Regions from separate parts of the Homo sapiens genome. Here all the other regions are linked to region 2. The links come from fine-mapping of genetic effects on gene expression. A gene starts in region 2. Each other region holds a variant in brackets. All regions are shown on one strand. Distances are from middle to middle.

Region 1 (5,151 bases), 21 kb after region 2:
TCAATGTTTATTATTTCATTTTTTCTAATATTAGGTTCAAAGTTACAAATAAATCCTTTTCTATTCTTTTAATAATTACCCTTGATATTGCAAAACATATTTTTAACTGATTAGAATGTCATGTTTATTGATATTGTTCTCTTGGACAAGGCAAGGACTCTAGCATAATTTAACTCCATTTACCCAACTTCTGACTTATGTCTATAAGACGCTTTTATTATTGTTTCATACAGCCAATATTCATGCAGATTGATTCATAAATTTCCCCTTCTATTGCTCTTCATTTTTCCTAGGTCTCCCACCTTCCATCTGTGAACATTTTTATTCTGCCTAAACAATATCCTTTGGTGTTTTCGTAAGAATAGGTTTGCTGGTGATAAATCCACTGTTTTTGCTCATCTGAAAATGTCTTCATTTCAATTGCTTTTTTTGAGGATGAAAACAGAATTTTAGATTGGCAGTTTTTTAAAGTACTTTAAAGATATTTTCTCATTATCTTCAGGCTGCCATTATTTTTCATACAAAGTCAGCTCACTCTAATTTTCATAATTTGTCTTCATTCCTCCTTCACTCCGCCTCCTGGCTGCTTTTAAGATTTTTCTCTTTGTTATTTGTTTACAGCCATTTAATTGTGATGCATAGGTATGGATCTCTTTTTATTTATCTTATTTATAGTTTATAGGACTTTTTAGTCTGTGTCTTGATTTCTTTCACCAGTGTTGGAAATTTCTTAGCCATGATCTGTTCAATTAGAACTGTTTCTGTCACGTTCTCTCTAGGACTAAAATTACTCATAGCTTAGATCTTTTTCACTCTATTCTGTAGGTATTTTATCTTCCCCTTTGTATTTTTCACCCTTTTATCTCTCCATGCTGCATTCTGGTTTATCTTTTGTTAGCTCTGCTTTTAGGTACGTTCAAATTTTTGTTTGAGCTAGTATATAAAAACATATTTTATATACTGAGCTTTTATGCAATGGCCTTGATAAATCCATTTGCTAATTGTAATAGTTGATCTAAAGATTATTTTGGATTTCTATGAATGCAAACATTTAGTATGCAAATGGGGTGCATGAATGGCAGTTACTGTTCCCTTTCCAATGTTTTCTTTCTTTTTCTTGACTTACAGCACTGTAACAGTGGAAATAGCAAGCATCCTTTATTTTTTTAATCTCAGAAAGATGTTTTCAATATTTTCTCATTAAGTACTCTGTTTATTATCCTGTTTTCTTGGTAGCTTTTATTCTATTTAAGAAATTTCTATCTACTACTAGTTTGCTAAGAGTTTATTATTAACATGGTGGAATTTCATCAAATATTTTCGCTGCATCTATTGATATAGTCAAACTTTTTTCTCCTTTATTGTGTGGTTGAGTGATTTTCAAATATCTGAATAACATTGCATTCCTGGGAAAACTACAACTTGGTTGTATTGTATATTTACATTTTATGTATTGATGGATTAGATTTACTAATATTTTGCTTAGGATTTTTGCAACTAAGTTCCTAAGAGTAATTGGCCTATCATTTTCCTTTCTTGTAATATGATTTTCAGGATTTCTGGTTGATTCTTTCAGACATCGAAGGCATAAGTCTGGAATCATCTTAATATGATCTTAGGACTAGAAATGATTCGAAACTGGGCTACAGTCACAGAGAGGGCCAGAATAAATATAAAAAAAAAATTCGATTGACATTTAAGTAGGCAAAATATAACTAGATGGAAAACTACTGAAAAATTAGGCTTATGTTATTAATGATATCTTTAAAATAATCAACATCTTCCTAGTTCTATAGCCATGACCCATAAACCACACTGGCCTGGTGGACACTGGCTTTCACCCAATTATTTTGTAGAAAAAGTAGCTAATCGGTCTGATCCAGAGTAATAAATCACATCCCCCAGCCCACTTCCACGCAGGAAAAATTAGAAAGTATATATGGCAAATGCCATATTCACCAAAAACTCCTTTTGTTTAGATTTAGTCTTATTTTTACATGTTTAAACAGGTGTTTCCTTTTAATAAGACGTTATCTAGAAACAAGAGAAGACTAACAGTCTGTACAAATGGAGAATGTTAAAATAAGCTTCAAATAAATCATTCGGGAAGACTCCCTGCCAGATGATCTATAATGTATGCCACTTTTCCTCCTTTCCAGGGGAGAAGCAGAGACATGGCGCCTGAGTAATAAATATATTCACAGAAAACATCGCCGAGTCCTTAACGATCTTGAGAGTGAAAAATGAGGCTTTAAAACAGCATTGTGAACAACACAAGAAACATCAAAGTAAAGCAAAAAGTATCTTGGGAGGGAAAAGGCAATGACTGAATTCCCAATATTACAGCATGTTGTTACAACAAAAATATTTGTATTTCCACAGAGCTCTAATATGGTGGAATAGAAGGATCTGTTCAAGCAGTGACCAATACAAAAAAACACCCTAGAAGGTAACTGAAGAACATACGCTGTAATCTGTTTTATACATGTCTTATCATCAGTGAATATCTATTGAGCTCTCAGTGAGCATTTATGCCTGCAAACAGTTGCATTAAAAATTACAGAAATGATCCAGTCCTTTCCCACAGGACATCCCATTCCAAAAGAGCAAGATGTACAACTCATTCTCTTTCTATGGGCAGATTCTACTTTTTCTTTTTCTTCACCATGGTGATTCCCAGCCTCACTTTACCAAATGAGGATTAAATGGATGGGATTCAAATCTGTCTTTTAAGAAATGGAGAAGAAAGCAAGCAGGACTATGCACAAAAAGGTTGTTCCAACTCCATAGAATTTAAGGAATCATGAATTGTAGATGGAGACCTCGATGCAGCCAGGGATCATGAAATCAAAGGCCAGGGATGCAGGCCAGATCACATCCACAAAGAGATAGGATCTCTCCCCTTATTCATGAAATCTGAGGCCTTCTTTTGTTTGTTTCTGTAGACCCACGAGTTCAGAGAAATGTTTCTCTACTTAAAGAAAATCCACTGGCAAGTCTTATGATAAATGGCAGCCACCCTTGACCTCAGTGTGGGGAGTCCATAGAGCAGAGCTGCAGGAGAAGATCCAGGTTTCCTGGAGTCAGAAATGTATACAATTGTGGAGGCCTCTTTAAGAAAACAACACAGAATTGCAAATACAAAATTGGGTCAAGGGCCTTGAAAGATCAGGCTTTAGCATGTTAGCTTTCTTATCTTCAGA[C/A]AATATGTACCTCTGCTTGGGGAGGCTGGTACAGCGTCTCAAGAGGGCAGCCTCTCCTCAACCCAGCTGACTGTTGCCCTTAGGGAAACTGGCCAAACTAGCCAGATCTGATATTCTAAGAACACCCAGAAATCTGGATGTCTATGAGAAATTCCCCCCATTTAAAAACATTGGCAAAACGTTCAAGGTTTAAAGAAACAAAACAGGAAGACCTGTGTAAGACTCAACCTTTGGTCTTCACGTTGGCACCTCTGGCAAATTGAATTCTGCAGTAACTGAGGCCCGAGTTAGGTTGTTGCCCTAATCCCTCAGGTGCACCTCTCTGCTGGACACCCTCGTGGAGGCTGGTTTAACTTAAGCAGTCCAACCACAGAAGCTCTCGTGTGAAATGCATCCAGCTTAGACAGTGCTTTTCAGTGAGGAGCTTGAGGAGAGGGCCCAAACTTAAGGGAAATGTTAGAACACAGTGGCAGAAGGAGATGACAGATTGAATGTGGGAGGAGAAAAACGACTTCCAGACCCCTGTCTTTGAAAATAGATTAAATCATGGACCCTCATACAGTGATTAGACAGCTGGGACACGTGGAAGGCTTTAAGGCAGCATTTCTGAAAACGTGCTCCACAGACCATCTTATTCTGGAATACCTGGTGTGCCTGTGAAAATGCTGATCTCTGGGCCCAACCCCGAAAGGAGCGTGTAAGTGCCTGTGAGTAGGGCTCAGGAATATGCACTTTGACAAGCACCACGTGATTCTTAGGCACAGTTACAGTTAAGAAACACAAGTGGGAAGCTCTTTTCTTTTTTTCTTTCTTTTTTTTTTTTTTTTTTTTAGTCTTGCCAAGAGCTGCTTACGGGACTGGCTGCGTATGAGAAAGCTTCCAGACTTCCAGTTATCTGAGCCGGTGCCCCTGGGAGACACTGGCAAGTTGGTCCCAGTCATTCACTGCCCTCTTCCTGGCCCACACATTTTTAGTTCTGAACCTCAATGGCTCTTTAAGCTGCCAAGCAGAATGAACCACTGAGTCTTTAAGAACACCACCTAGGGTAAATGGGCCAAGCCCCAGCTGATTTGACCCTCTGACTTCCTCCTTGACATTCTTGCTGACACATTGCAACCTCAGCTGTATTTTGTTGACAATTAGCAGATGAAGTGTCCTGAAAACCCAAGGTCTGCTTTATATAAGTTACAAAATGCTTACCAATGACAGTATTAATACCAGGCCTTCTTAACAACATATTCTTGATTACAGTAACTTTGCCTCTGAGTCTTACGTGAAAGAAAAATCTGCAGGTGTTTCTGTGCCACAGTGAGCACGTATGTCCATGCGGCAATACCCTAAGGAAACTCCCTTCTCCGGAATATCTCAGTTGACCTTGCTCTGTATTTCCTTTAATTAACATAAATAGTTGTGACATTATTTCTGTGTATACATTCTTCCCCCATCAGAATTTTAACTCAAGAGTAAAGAGTACATTTTTATTTAATAAGAATTCAATATCAACCAATTGGGAGGTAAAAAAGTAAGACATGATTAAGGCCTAGGAGGAAGAGGAGATAATGTGAGATATTAGGGAACTGAAAAAGCCAAGTTACAACCTGACAAAACCAGACACTAAGGAGGGGACCATCTGGGTCACTAGGCTGCTTAAACAACCTGAACCTGAGACACAACACAGTCCACATACAAACATTATCCCACACTGGTGGAGTTCAATCTTCAATATCTTTCCCTCACCCCTACCATGGCTTACCATGCTCTCCTTGCCTCCTTTGTTATCTTTTCTCTGGACTCATCTATTAGCCCTTACTGGTTAATGGTTACCTCTCTGTTCTAAGCTTTACTTCTTGTCTCCTGTTTTCCTCTTTTTCTGTCTTCCCTGGATAATCAGAGGAGGAACTGCCAGGCACCATCTCCTAAATCAACTTGCTCATGAGCAGGGGCCAAA
Region 2 (5,151 bases):
ACATCAGTTCTCAAAAGGAAGTAATTCTAGGTCTAAAGCTTCTCTGTAGATAACATCAGGTTCACGGACCTGATGGAAAAAAATGGCTACAAAAGTAGGACAGGACTATTTCTCTAATTTTTTTGTCACATGCAAACATTAACATGGGCTTTACATACTCTCCTAAATATACATATGCACAGAACAGTCACCTGTGCCTTAGACTTTCTAAGAGTGTGCTACACTAAATTATGGATAAGAGACTACGTGCTGCTTCACCTTTCAAATAAAAGGCTTTTCAGTAAAAGGAAGACAATGACGCAGTGATTCTGCATTTGGATTCGGTGTGATAAACATTAACCGTATCGCATCACATGCCGACCTTCTCCAACCTTTTAAGTTCTTTCCTAACGCAGTTTAAATTATTTTTTCTACACTTTAGGGCGACACAGAACTTCAAGATTTAGCGGAAATGGAGCGCTCTATTTTTTAAGTTGGAAAAACTAAAAGGTCTAGCTTGGGTAACTTCTTCACAGCATAAGGGATAGTATTTTATACTAATAAAAATATCCTTTATGTCAATAACTATAATTTATTGAACACTTTATACGTGTGTTCTACACACTCGTTTCTCTTCACCTCAACCCTGAAGAGACAACGGAAATTATCATCACTTCAGCATGGACAGGTTCAGAAGTTAAATACTCTCTCAAGGTCAGAAGCAGCAGAGGCAGGATTCAAACCTTAGCCTTTCCCACTCCAAAGCCAAGACTCTTAATTGCCTTTGAGGGCACTAAGCTTTGCAAAAGAAATCTTTAGAATCCAAGTGGAAAAAAGATGTGTTGGTAAACGCAGTGCTGAGATATGCTATAGAGAAGTGACCAGTAGAGCAATCAAAAAGGTTAGTAATATCGAAGAAGTCCTGCCACAGAATTCCTGGGCAGCACATATGCTTGGTTCTGTAAACCTGAAAGAACTTGCAGTATAAAGTTATTAGAAGCCTTCCAAACTACATCAACAAACAAATCACTTACTTTCATAAACATGTCTGGCAGAGAGGTCACAGATAACTCCAATTATAATAGAAAAGCAAAAATAATTACATTAAGAAACATTTTTACAGAAATAGTCTTACTTTTCTTGATTTCCTAAGTTGACAGGTATAATTGATTCTATAAAGGCAAGAATGTGTGATGAAGATGATGCAGATGCGTGCAAACACACACACGACGGGAATTACATGCTGCATCTGTCACCCTAAGTTAACCAAGGTTCTGTAAAACACAACCCTCACCTTTTCTGGATGTGGTTCATAACAAGGCTGCCACTGTGGTAGCCTAGGAAAAACCTCACTACTTCCGAGAAATTATGAGAAAGCTCGTTAATTAAGGCTAACCTATGAAAAACTATTTAACACCAAATCATGAAAAACATTTCGCGGTAAGTCATCAAAATCCTTAAAGATCCCATAAATTTGAACCTATTTCAGAAGGATAAAAAAGTAGTAATCACACACATTATGTAAGAAATAGGTCACAGCGTAAGTATTCGCTTACTTGCCCCTATGTAAAATTCTTTGAGTCCAATGATTTTAATTATTAGAATCTAAATTAATCAGTTTTATTACAGTCACAGCTTATTAACCCCATAAAGAAAAATGGGCACATCCAAGATGCCAAAGATTTATTAAAAACAATTTAAAATACATGATGATTTTAAGTCTTCAACAATTTGGTTGTTTTAGGGAAATATTTAAGACCCGCAGACTGTTTGTCATGCCCTGGCCTCAAAGGAGTTTCACGACCGAGTTCTCCAGGTAAAAGTTAATGTATGCGGGTCCCTAAAGGAAGACCCCAGCCTTCCATTCCCCTGGAGCCTGCGGGCGGCGGGGAAGGAGGGTTCTGACAACAGGGTAAGGGAGAGGAGCGCAAACCGCCGGCCTCCGCCCCGCCACCCCCAGTGCGGCCACCGCTCATGCCAACACATCCCGGGAAAGCCGGGTGCACCGACTCCGCAAGGTCACCCGTGAAGAGGCGACTTTACATAATCTCCCACCGCGCCGCCAAGGCACCTGCGCGCCGCGGCAGCAGTGCAGCCGCGGTCCCCTTCCTGCAGCACGGGCGCGAGATGATGCGGGGGCGGCGAGCAGCGCTACCAGGCAGGACGCCGGGGACCCGCGGGAAGGCAGCGCGCACCAAGCCGGGGGCGGGGGACCGAGGGTGGACGCCCAGACCGGGGATGCCCCGAGCCGCCGCCTTGGCTTGCGAGGCGGGGCGCGGCCGGCGCGGGCGAGGCTCGGTGCCGAACTCCCCAAGCTGCCGCCGGACGGCCAGCGCCGAGCGCGCCCCTCGCAGCTTCGCCCCGGACTGCCCCGGGACGCACCTGCCGCGCGCCTTACCTGAGTGGCTTTATGGAACTGCTTCTTGAGGCCGGCCACCGACATGGTGCAGGAGGCCGCGCTGGCGGCTGCTGTGCGGGAGGGAGGAGGCGGAGGGGGACTGGAGGGCCGAGCGGGGCGGCGCGCTCCCCTGGCCGCCTCTGGTCGTGCCGCCGCCGGGGCTATGGGCGCGAGGGCGCGGAGCCTAGCGGGACACGGGCTCTTGCGGAGAAACACTCTGACGTCAAGGGCGGGTGATGCGGCCTCTTAAAGGGGACGCGGGAAGCCCCGCCCCAAGCGCGGGAACGCCCAGGCAGGTGCTGTGGCGCGCGGTACCTGGATGCTGGCGCCAACTGCGGGGATGTGGCTCAGCGGCACCCGCTGGCGGATCCCTAGTCAGCGGGCCGAGGACGTCCTCCTGTCCCGGGGTTGGTGTTCCTGCCCCCGGGGGCTGCGGACGGGTCGCTGCAGATTGGCAGCCCAGGCACCCGCAGGACTCAGGTGACTTGCTGGGCTTCCAGGTAGCCGCGGCGGCGCTGCCTGCAGACGGCCCTCCTGCCCTTTGAGCCTGGCGTCTCTGCGCCGCAGCCTGAAAAAGACTGGCCTTCTATCTGGGCTAATGAATAAGTCATTGCTCCTTCTATGCCTTGCCCTGACTGGTGGGTCACAGAAAACATTTCTCTGCCCTGGTTTCAATATCCCTTAAGCCCATCTTACCTTAGGGAAAGTCACACACGCGTTTTCCCCCTTGTCTGATACAATTTAATGACTTAAAAAGAAGAACAGGAACCCTTAAGCCTGGACGGATAAATAGAATTGAAGTCTTACTACAAAACTAGCGTTCAATCCTCTGGTTACAGAAATGAAAAAGCCCAAATGTGATCTTGTTGTTATGCTTGTGGATTTAGGGTTTCCGGTCCGATAAAAATCAAAATATAATGTGAAAAAGCATGATACTAAGTTATATACAGATGCTTCATATGTAACCAAGGAGGTATGGCTGGCTAAAGTGAAACTAATAGATGACTTGGGAGCAGAGCAGCACTAAATGCCTTCTGTGCTCTGGTACTTAACCAAGTCTGGTTTTTCTAGGACTGAGGAGGTGGTCAGAAAGAACTTAGACGCTGTCCCCGTATGTGGACCAAAGTGATAAGAAGGAGAAGCCAAGATGGGAGAAATTGCCAAGGATGTGTAGAGACTGCAAGGCCAAATGGGAGTCCTAGAAATACTTTTTCTGTCTCCGCAACTCCTGCAGCCTGATAGGAGCCACAGACCCATCCCCACTCTTCTAGGCACTGCGGCTTGGGCACAGGGTGAACACCTGCTACAAAAGGGTCCTCCATCCGTAGAGCTACCAGTCATGGTCCTTCTTGATAATGTGAACTGACACACACAAAGGCAGAGTCAAGCAGTGGTGGGCACTGGAGCAGTAGAGCGCATGGACTAGGGACGCAGGCTGCAAAGGGAGGCAGATGAAAGGAGCTATTCTCCAGTGTGGTAGCCCTTACCACTGTTCATATACCTTTCCCTACATGGCAGAATTGCACTTTCCAAACCTCTTGTTAAGTGGAGGCATGGTTACAAGTTTTGACTAGAGGTTTAAGAGGAAAAGTGACTGTCACTTCTGCAGCAGCAATATGAGATGTATGAGATGCCGCAAAGCTTTCTTTTCCTCGGCCGCAATATTCTAGAAAGCTGTGGTCTGTCAGCCAGTATCCAGAGTGAGACTAAAGCAGTGCAGAGTCCCCACCTGACGTTCAATGGGCATGTAGCATCAGTGAGAAACCTGAGTAATTTTAATCCACTGAGGCTCCGGTTGTTAGGAATAAACTTTTTTCTCTATGTTTCCAATTTTTAAAAAGGCTACCCATTACTTGCATAATAGAAAAAAAAGTATTTTATAGTTAATTTTTACTACCAGGTCCCTGATCTGAACAATAAAGCATTTTCATAAGACAGGGCTTTGTTGAAGCTGCCAAAAGATAGAGCAATTGATCTACAAAGTGGAAGGGCCTGGGATGGATAGGAGCTCTGCTCTCTAACAGTGAAAGGTGTGAAATGGGGGCCTGAATTGCCTCCTTGGAACTTTGAATACTTAACTGAGCCCTACATTATAAAAAAGGCAGTTTCTATCTTTCCCTGGTTCTTCATCCACCAACCTGGAAGTCTCATGCTGCTTAACTTCAAAGAAACTACCTTGGGAGAAAAAAACTACTTAAGGGCATTACATTAAATCCTTTGGAAACCATTGATTTAGTCGCCCAGGCATCCTCTGCACCTCATCTTATATGGTTTGGCTGTGTCCCCACCCAAATCTCATCTTGAATTGTAACTCTCACAATTCCCACGTGTCGTGGGAGGAACCCAGTGGGAGTGATTGAATTATGGGGGTGGGTCTTTCCTACACTGTTCTCGTGGTAGTGAATGAGTCTTACAAGATCTGATGGTTTTAAAAACAGGAGTGTCTAGTTCAACCATTGTGGAAGTCAGTGTGGCGATTCCTCAGGGATCTAGAACTAGAAATACCATTTGACCCAGCCATCCCATTACTGGGTATATACCCAAAGGACTATAAATCATGCTGCTATAAAGACACATGCACACGTATGTTTATTGCGGCATTATTCACAATAGCAAAGACTTGGAACCAACCCAAATGTCCAACAATGATAGACTGGATTAAGAAAATGTGGCACATATACACCATGGAATACTATGCAGCCATAAAAAATGATGAGTTCATGTCCTTTGTAGGGACATGGATGAAATTGGAAATCATCATTCTCAGTAAACTA
Region 3 (5,151 bases), 46 kb before region 2:
TAGCCAAGAAGGTCACAGTTTCAGGCCTTTACTTCCAGAAGAGCTCTCGGGTGGGCCAGGAATGAAGAACCCAGCAAAGCGGTTAGGGATCCAGCACCTTCTGAGAGCTCTGCCATTATTCCCCAACGATCAAGCTAGCTCTCTGCCTCATAGGAAGATGAGCTGTAGGTGGGCTCTGGGCACTATCTAAGCTTTGGAGCAATATATGGCGCTGCAGGATGAAAACAGGGAACAGGACAGGATGGTGTCTCATTGGTGAGTGCTAATAAAAACAGCAGCTGACGTTTTATTCCTTGAGTGTATTGAAAAAACTCTGGCTTTGGAATCTGGCAGTTTTTACCGGCAGTCCCAATTCTTCTATTTAGTAAGTTAAACATGTTATTCAGTCTTTGGCACCTCCAATACAGGGTAGTTGTGACAATTACATGAGGAGAGGTACATCCAGCACACGACCAGGGCCTGACAGAAAGTGGAGGTTAAAGAAGATTATCCTGGCTCAGACCTGCTCAGGGAACCAGTAATGGGGGAGGGGAAGCTGAGCCAGCCCCCAAATTTGGTAGTTAGAAAGGAGACTATTTTCAAGGCCTCCTCTTCCTCGACTCTTCCACAAATTAAAGTGCTCAGATATCTATGAGAGACACGGGAGGTAAAGGCAGTTCTCCAAAGGAATGTGAAGAAGACATATTGGAGGCCATACTTTGGAGAGGGACTGTCAAATGTCCACAAGAATCTGCAGAAAGCTATGGGAGCCATTCCTCCAAAAAATGCATTCATACAAACATATAACATTTTGCATCTAATTTCAGGGAGTCCACAGATCCTTACACATTCCTTATTCAATGGCCTTCGATTTACTGGTAAAGGTTACCTGATATGTCTTAAAGTAACTGCACTAGACTGCCATTGTTTTACTCTTTAAAAAAATAAAAATCATTACTGCCATTTTAAAAATCCATGAGCATGAAGATTTTAAGAAAATAAAATCAAAAACAGAGCAGGAAATAAGAGAGAGATGAGGACACAGTCCAACTAGGACCTTAATGAAGCCACACCTCTGGCCCAGCGAGGCTTCTAGAAGGGGCAGCTGTGTGGTCCTCTAACCTCAGAGTGGCTCAACTGTCCCTCACAAAGGTCCCTGTCCCCCGCAACATGCTCCTGCCATTCCCAACCATGGCCTCAGGCCAGAGCAATCTGAAAGCACTCACATGGGCTCATATCCCCTTGACATATGGAGGCAATAAAAGAAGCAGGTGCCAGGTGGAGGTCAGACCCGTCCCAGACCCACACCTGCCGAGGCACAAACATGGGCTCCCACAGGCTCCATCTGCTGTGTCCTGCGGCCAGAGCCTCCCTCTGGGAACCAAAACCAAAGAGCCAAGTGGACACCTCCCCAGCCTCACAAGACAGTCCATCAGCTCAGGTAGGGAAGATGAGATGGGGAAGACTGAAGTAAAGGACAAGGAGAAGAAAACAGCTTTTCTGCTCTGCTTCATCAACCACAGTCAGTGAGACCGATGCTGTCACATGGTTTTCTCTAATTGCCTTGAGGTAAGCATGGGGTTTAAGACATACCTCCTGGGACAGGTTTCCCATGAAGACACAAAGTGACCTCAGCCTCCCTTTCACACTGAAAAACGATACCCCCAGTATGTGAAGCTTCAGACAGGAAACTGATTAAGAAGGAAGAAATCTACCCCACCTCCTACCCTGCCAATTCCTGTACCTAAGCTGCTTCCACAGGGCTTACTTTTCTTCTTCAGTTTTTAACTAAGACAAGAAGAAAGCACAAAGAGGCAGAAGTGCCAAGTTGAAGTTCTGGTTCTGCCACTTACTAGCTCTTTGCTACTAAGGAAAAGAGACTAACTTTCCCCATTGGAAATGTACTCTCTTTGCCTTGTTTCCCTGTCTGTAAAATAGAATTGATCTCTGCCTGATTATCACACAAGGTATTGTCCAGAGGATCCCATGAGATGAGAAAAGTAGGAATGCGTTTTAAATAGCTCCATACTGGTAAGAAAGTGTCAGAAATTATCAGGTGACTTGCAAGTTAGGAGGCAATGAAAGGAGGTGGACTGTAAAAAACGAACTGTGTGTTGCCACAGTAGTAATTCTGCTCATTCCACACAGCAATATAAAGTGGGGCTTCTGGACCAGGATTCAATCAACAACAGATGTGGACTATCTGGCCTCTGCAGGCTGCTCCCACCAAGGGAACCAGAATACCATCCACTCACCACCTCCCCCTGCCCATTCACACAGGATGAACCAATGTTAAAGGGGCACCTACAGAGCATGGTGAGACGAGAACACAACTAAAAATGCAAGCATGAGAGAGTGCCAAAATGTGCATGTTCATTAAAATGCAGGCCAGCCCCCTCCCAAAAAAAGTATGGCCAGAGGGAAAGGGACACAATCTGTCAGGCCAACTCTAGCCAAGGTTTACAAACAAATTAAATAGAAGAACAATTTTCATCTCACTCACACTCTGAACAGATATTCCTCATTTACCAATTGCAAATCAAAATTGTTCTTCCTCAGTACCCCAACATTTCCACTTGACCCAACATCTACCAAGAAATGGATAGTTCCCAAAGCCTGGGCCTAACACTTCACACAGCACAGAAGCAAATGGAAAACACAGACCATACTGCCTATACCCTTTCTCCACTAAAAGGAATCTGGGATCCTCAAAGGAACAGATGGCTCCAGGGCTAGAGTATATACAAGATGAGCCTGATCACATTGTTATGCCAGAAA[G/C]TGAAAAATTTGTCAAAAGTAAGTGATGGGAACATGCCACATGGACACAGGAGCCATCTTGAAGGGGCCCCCACTAGCCAACTCAAATTTGATTGAGGGCTCAAATTGAGTACAGTGGTAAATTATGAACCAACGGAAAATGGGAACTCTTGAGTGCACACAAAAAATAAATAAATAAAATTATATGAGACTCTTGCTTAGAGCAGAATGTCAAAGGCTAAATGGTAAACATGGAAAGAGCATGGAGATGGAAAATCATGTTTGCGCACCTATCACTGTGAAGACTGGACCCAGTAATAATCATCAATGGATGCTAAATCTTGCACTGACTTTGAGGAGAAGGAGGATATCTATATGACCTTACAGTAGCTCCCCACAGACCACTTATTGCAAGGGAAGAAAGAGAAAACAATAATTATATAATCAGGAAACTAGACAACACTGTGAAAGGATGTTAAAAATCATCGCCACCGATGGGCATAAGGTGCCTGCAGGTTGGACATCCTGGCAAGGACACATCACTATGCAATATTCCAACTGAGATTGCATCACCCTGAATCTAATCATGAGGCAGCAACAACCTCAAACTGACAGCCACTGCATTTTTAACGGGCAGGATGCAGTCTTAAAAACGAGATAAACCAAGGCTGTGCAAATGTTTCAGATTAAAAGAAACGAACGAATGAAATAAAATGAAGTATTTGACCCCAGACTAGAACCTGTATGAGACAGAAAAATATTATTCAAAATGTAATTGGGTTAACTTGTTAATTGGAATATAAATATTAGATCTGATTTTTTAAATTGTATCAATGTTAAATTTACTCAAGTTGATAATAGTGCTGCGGTTATAGTATAAGAGAATATCCCAATTCTTAGGAAATAAATACTTAGGTAATTAGAAGTAAAGGACCATGATATAGTAACATATCCTCAAAATGGTTCAGAAAAATATATGGTGGGTGGTGTGTGTGTGTGTGTGTGTGTGTGTGTGTGTAGGAAATTATAAATAGGGTTAAATATAAGAAAAGGTGAATTAGATAAATAAATGGACAGGTATTCTTTGTAATTTTTTTCTGTAAATTTGAAATGATTTCCAAGCAAAAAGAAAATGCAAACAAAAAACATATTGAACCTTCATTCTCCGATTACATTTTTCATGAAACATTGTCCAGTCTTAACTTTCAGAACATCAATCTCTTCTGGATTTCTCTCTGACTTGTCCTTCACAGGCAACCTTCTTCTTAATTCATTCCCTAAGATTGATAGGTCATTTTGTTCTCAGTCTACACACTACCCTATATAGAATCTAATTCCATTTGAACTACATACGTATACAACACCTAAGGCCACATATCCCACAACTCTACTTTCTGAACCTCGCCAGCTAGCTTCCCACAAGCTCCTCCTATGGACAGGACACATCTTCTACACCTGGCAACATTCAGACGTATCGTAGGGACCTTAGACACCAGAGACTAACTTCTCATCCCTCACCCTTAACCACTAAAGGGCCCACTCCGATGGAAGGACAAGGGGAAAGAACAGAACCAGGGCTTTATTTCACCCTTCCAAACAGTGAACTAAAGCAGAACGAATGCAAAGATAGGAAAGGGGAAGGGGAAGGGGAAGGGGAAGGGGAAGGGGAAGGGGAAGGGGAAGGAAAGGAAAGGAAAGGAAAGGAAAGGAAAGGAAAGGAAAGGAAAGGAAAGGAAACGAAAGGAAACGAAAGGAAAAGGGAGGGAGGAAGGGAAGGAAGAAGCAAGGAAGGAGCAGGTATAATTTCATTCTGCCATATTACAGCAAGCATAGTTCTTACTCTCAAAAACTGCGGCAGAGGATTGGCAGTCTTTGAGTCTTGGTTTTCATGCCCCAAGCACATACCCTGCCAACGGAGTGACCAAAAGGTGAGGCTCAGGATCCATTATTCTTTACTTACCGTGCCTGCTCTGACTTCCTCATTTTGAAATTAAGGACATCAAGAGCACCTACCTACCAGCCCACTTTCTCAGAGAATAAGACAAACCCAGGGTCACATGAGAAAACCACAGGTACTGTTCAATCCCAATTAATATTCTTCCACATTTTTTAATTGGTATCACTTTTTTTTTGGTCTTTGTAGAGGTATTAAAAGAATAAAGTTGTGGACACCTATGATGAAACATGAGTATCCCACAGGTGGCGCCGAATCTGGAAATAGGAGGTTCTTTGCTCACAAGTGGCCTGGACACCCAATTCTAGTGTCCTTATTTACTATGGAAGCATTTTTAATCATGCTGCCTCTTAAGAGATCCTCCCCCTTGGAAGAATGCTACTGAAATTATTCCCCTGCCCCTGGCAGGTTTCTGACTAAAAATTGGAAGCTATCCTCCCATTTAGACACTGCAGATGGCT
Region 4 (5,151 bases), 150 kb before region 2:
TGTAGAACCCACATATACAAAAAGTTGGTCCTCTGCATAGGCAGGGCTCACATCCCATGAATATTCTATATTCCACCCACGTTTGGTTGAAAAAAAAAATTCATGTATAAGTGGACCCCACAGTTCAAGTAAGTATTGTTCAAGGGTCAACTGTAGCTATATGTCATACTCTTACATAAATACAAATCTCACACATGCACAAACACAAATATATAGGGAGCATTTTATAAATAATGGACATTTCTGGATTTTCTATAGATTCAGGGTGCTTATACTCATACATTAAACTGAGGACAGGTGCTAAGTCCTATTGCAGGATTCCAACCTGGCACTAATGGCTTCCTTTTCTCTTAATTCTGCTTAGGCTTAGTAATGTGCTAATGTCAACATCTGCCAGTGAGTGGTAGGTAGTGAATACCAGGATTCTAGGAGGCTGCCCCTTTAGTTGTTCAAGTGAGACCTGAGAGGAAGAGACAGAGGAATATTTAGAAAGAAAAGACTTAAGAGACTGGTTACCCCTTCTCATGATGTGGCAAAAGTGAAGCAGAATAGGTACCAGGAAGGGAGCCCGGAGGCAGCACTTTTGAAGTTACTTGTCCTTTAGTTCTGGAATGTAGGGGAAAGAAGAATGCATTACTTTGTAAAGATATCATTTATATCCCATAAAGTTCACCCGTTTAAAGTACACAATCCAGTGATTTTTAGTGTATTTACAGAGTTATGTAATCATCACCATACTCAAATATTACACTGCTTTCATCATACCAAAAAGAATTTTTTTACAGCCTTCACTGCCCAGGCTCCTTCCCCCAACTCCATTCCAACCTTGGTAACCACACATATACTTCTGTCTCTATGGATTTACCTACTATGGACATTTTATATAAATGAAATAATATAATTATGTGGTGTTTTGTCTCTGGCTTGTTTCACATAGCATTATGTTTTCAAGGTTCCTCATGTTGTGACATGTATCACTGCTTCATTCCTTTTATGGCTGAATAATATTTCATTGTATGGATAATCCATATTTTGTTTATTCATTCAACTGTTAATGGACATTGTGTGCTACTTACTAGGTTGAAAACTGTGGGCAAAATGTCTTACCTCTTAACTTTTCTAATATATGGATAACTAAAAGCTACCTCACAGGACAGTTATACACGAAATTATGTGAAGACTGTACAGTATAATTGAGTAAGTGCTTTGTCAATTGTAAAGTACTTTACCAATGCAAGAGATTAGTGTCAATCTATGAGCATCAATATTTGTCCTGTTACCTAAGAACAAGGTGACATCACATGAAAACTCATGGATGTGGTGACTGTAAACTTCCAAAATGCTTCTACCTCAGACAAACATGTGGCTGAATGAGGAAACAAAGATACTTTCCAAAAATCCAGGTAAATTAAAGGGTTGAGGGCAATTAGTCTAAATGGCATCATTCCAGATGATCTTGAAAAGCAAAATAATGTGCCTGCGGGCACCTGTTATGGAGTGATGAACTGGAGTGATGAACTTGAGATTTATATTTCAAAATGCAATTCTCGACTGAGAGTGCATTTTCTAGAAGGGACCTATATTAAGTTTTCTTATCAAATCAACTCATGTTACCAGAGTTCTTTAGTACACTGGTTCACTAAGCTGGCAAGCAGAGGTTAAGTAAGAGAATGTGAGAGGCCATGTGTTCTCATTGTTCAATTCCCACCTATCAGTGAGAATATGCAGTGTTTGGTTTTTTTGTTCTTGCGATAGTTTACTGAGAATGATGATTTCCAATTTCATCCATGTCCCTACAAAGGACATGAACTCATCATTTTTTATAGCTGCATAGTATTCCATGGTGTATATGTGCCGCATTTTCTTAATCCAGTCTATCATTGTTGGACATTTGGATTGGTTCCAAGTCTTTGCTATTGTGAATAGTGCCGCAATAAACACATGTGTGCATGTGTCTTTATAACAGCATGATTTATAGTCCTTTGGGTATATACCCAGTAATGGGATGGCTGGGTCAAATGGTATTTCTAGTTCTAGATCCCTGAGGAAT[T/C]GCCACACTGACTTCCACAATGGTTGAACTAGTTTACAGTCCCACCAACAGTGTAAAAGTGTTCCTATTTCTCCACATCCTCTCCAGCACCTGTTGTTTCCTGACTTTTTAATGATTGCCATTCTAACTGGTGTGAGATGGGTAGGGATAGCATTGGGAGATATACCTAATGCTAGATGACAAGTTAGTGGGTGCAGCACACCAGCATGTCACATGTATACATATGTAACTAACCTGCACATTGTGCACATGTACCCTAAAACTTAAAGTATAATAATAAAAAAATGAAAAAAATAAAAAAAATTTAAAAAAAGAGAATGTGAGAGGGAAATAAACACATTCATTAGCATATGCAGTCTAACTTCGTTTTGCTTTGGCAAAATGAAGGATTATATTTCTGACATGGGGTGAGGGTTGTAGGAAAGAGGAGGTCTGACCACCCATCAAAAAAGAATCACTGTAGAATTAAACTTATGATTTGATGGGAAGATATCATCCCACGGGTACACACTTGTGCTGAAGAGTGGGGAAGGCAGCAGCAGTAAGAACTGCCAAGGACGTGGGGAGTGAAGTGACCAGGTATGCTATGGTCAGACAGCCAGGTGTTACAGAGAGAGGACTGAAACCCAGGTCCCCTGATTCCAAACCCACTCAAACTTCTGTTCCCAGGAAAGGATCTATTTGGGTTGGCTATAATCAATATGCAACTTCAGTGTGCAAAAATCTTTTAAATTTTTTAAAATTTGCTTCTCATAACTGTTTATATTGCTAAAAGCTGTTGGTGAACATTTTCTTGGAAATGAACAAGAATTGATTAAAATCAATTAGGTTTTACTGTCCTTCAATAATAAATCCATAATCTCCTTCCTTTGCCTATAGGCCTATTGAATCATATTATCACTAGGCCAATTATACCATTCCCCATGAAGACTTCCAAACCCCTCTGTGCTCCCATGGCCCCTGTGCCTAACCATTCAGCACTTGTTAGACAGTATTTTAAACTATCGTTGTTTATATGAATGCCTCTACAAACTTTCTGAGTTCCTGCAAGGCAGTGATTTTGATCTTGTTCATCCCTCTTTCCCAGTGCCTAATGTAGGCCTGATATATGCTCCAGAATACATTAACAGACAAGGAGGCAGTGGAACAGTATACCAACCTCTATACTAATTTGATCTGCTTATCCTTCCTTTAACTTCCAATTTCTAATTAATTCTCTTTGATATCATTCCCCTGAACCACCATGCATTTGTCTTTTCCTCTTTCCCACCAGATATGCCTCTTCCAGTGGCAAACCTTGAGGGCAAAAGGCAGTTACAGAAAAAAAGAGTAATTAGCAACAACTCCGGTCACCATCTCCAACAGTACTACCTTAAACAGGTTATTTTTTAAAGGGTAATATTAATGTGCTGTTATGATTGTTGTTGAGAATATGATGAAGTCCAAAAAAAGAGTGAAAGTGAGTTGGCCTACTCAACACTCATGTCATTTAAAACAGTCATGATCAGACACAACAGTCAAATGTGTTGCCTTTTTTATATGCTTGTTTCCCTATCACAGTATCTCCTCCTCTGCCATCACAGGTCAGAACCTGACTACCTTCTAATTTCTACCACTTGTTCATTTAAAAATAGTCACTGAATGTCTTTTGTATGTCCGGCACTGAGGATACTGTGAGGAGGATGTCCAAAAGCCCAGGGGGTAAATAGGGAAAGCATAGCTCCTCCAAGAGACCAGCACCGATGCAAATCAGAGAGGGAGGGAGAGAGCACTTGAGATGAAGCTGAAGACACTGGCAAAAGCCAGAACCTGCAAGCCCCTTTGGACTAAACTAAGGCTTCCATCCTAACAGCGATGAGGGAGTCTATCAGTCAGCTTGGGCTGTCATAACAAAATACCAGAGACCGGGTAAGCTTAAACAATAGAATTTTACCTTCTTGTGGTTCTAGAACTAGAAGCCCAAGATAAGAGTGCCAACATGGTTGGTTTTTGGTGAACGCTCAATTCCTGGCTTGCATGACGCTGCCTTTGCCTTCTCACTGTGTCCTCACATAAACCTTCCTCTGTGGTTGTGTGGAGAGAGAAAGATGCTCTCTCTCTCTCTCTGTCTGTCTCTCTCTCTCTCTTTCTCTCTCTCTCTCTTCCCTACCTCCCCCCACCTCCCTCCCTTTTCCTCTTCCTCTTCTTTTAAGGGCACAAATTCCATCAGCAGGGTTCTACCCTCACGAACTCATATAACTTTAAACACCTCCCAAGGGCCCCATCTCCAAATACCATCACATTAGGGGTTAGGGCTTCAACGTATATTTGGGGGAACACAAACATTCAGTCCATAGCAGGGAGAAACATAAGATTTATAATTTTAAAACATCGCTCTAGATATATTTAGTGCAAAGCCACTCAGCCAAATAACAGCTTGGCATAACCAAAGGACGCTGCTTTAGGAAAAGGTATCATTCCTGCCACAAGGACTATACAACGTTTTGCTTTCATCTGCAGAACCACAGAATCGTGACTGTCGCAAGGCTGGCATGCATAAGAACATATGGCTCTCTCTGAAAGTTTTGCATGCCTCAAGTCCCAAATCTGCTAATAAAAACATCCCGTTCTCTAAGTAAGCCTAAGTGTGCACTTATTTAAAAAACTGTTTTTGTCCTTTTGTTTTGGTTCCTCTCCTTACACAGCATATTGAAATCTTCAGTGAGATTTAATTTTCTGAAGTCTAAGTGAAATTTCCCAAAGAACTATAGTTTCCTGAAAATTTTGCACTTTGTTGAATTACCATCAATTCACGTCATATTTAGAGCAACTTAGATCATGTTTGACCTGTTATTTAAAATTTAGGAGAGTATCTTCAATAGATGCAGAAAAGGCCTTTGTAAAATTCAACACTCCTTCATGCTAAAACACTTAATAAACCAGGTATTGATTGAACCTATCTCAAAATAATAAGAGCTATTTATGACAAACCCACAGCCAATATCATATTGAATGGGCAAAAAGCTGGCAGCATTCACTTTGAAAACCGGCACAAGATAAGGATGCCCTCTCTCACCACTCCTATTCAACATAGTATTGGAAGTGCTGGCCAAGACAATCAG

Direction of the effects. Positions count from the first base shown, and alleles are read on the strand shown. Sizes are in standard deviations (SD) of each study's normalised expression. Not every link is listed here.
As copies of T replace C in region 4, the expression in prefrontal cortex of the gene that starts at base 2,599 in region 2 goes down (small effect, 0.18 SD a copy in ROSMAP).

Evidence for each region. PIP is the estimated chance that this variant, and not a neighbour inherited with it, causes the effect.
Region 1: its variant is the best candidate, but not a certain one, in a credible set for the expression of SH3GL2 in lung (TOPMed, PIP 0.87).
Region 3: its variant is the best candidate, but not a certain one, in a credible set for the expression of SH3GL2 in thyroid (GTEx, PIP 0.69).
Region 4: its variant is the best candidate, but not a certain one, in a credible set for the expression of SH3GL2 in prefrontal cortex (ROSMAP, PIP 0.64).

Annotation. Positions count from the first base shown.
Region 1 is chr9:17,555,220-17,560,370 of GRCh38, reverse strand. It overlaps LOC107987051 (a long non-coding RNA gene), which reads right to left. Exons shown (of 3, transcript XR_001746631.2): 3 at 4,668-5,151. Among named protein-coding and RNA genes, the nearest start is that of SH3GL2, 21 kb to the left of the region's middle. The variant C/A (reference allele first, on the strand shown) is at 3,204.
Region 2 is chr9:17,576,514-17,581,664 of GRCh38, reverse strand. It overlaps SH3GL2 (SH3 domain containing GRB2 like 2, endophilin A1), which reads right to left and starts at 2,599. Exons shown (of 9, transcript NM_003026.5): 1 at 2,378-2,599. The coding sequence starts at 2,422. RefSeq lists a silencer at 3,589-3,787.
Region 3 is chr9:17,622,309-17,627,459 of GRCh38, reverse strand. The region is part of intron 1 of SH3GL2 (SH3 domain containing GRB2 like 2, endophilin A1); the gene reads right to left. Among named protein-coding and RNA genes, the nearest start is that of SH3GL2, 46 kb to the right of the region's middle. The variant G/C (reference allele first, on the strand shown) is at 2,758.
Region 4 is chr9:17,730,463-17,735,613 of GRCh38, reverse strand. The region is part of intron 1 of SH3GL2 (SH3 domain containing GRB2 like 2, endophilin A1); the gene reads right to left. Among named protein-coding and RNA genes, the nearest start is that of SH3GL2, 150 kb to the right of the region's middle. The variant T/C (reference allele first, on the strand shown) is at 2,051.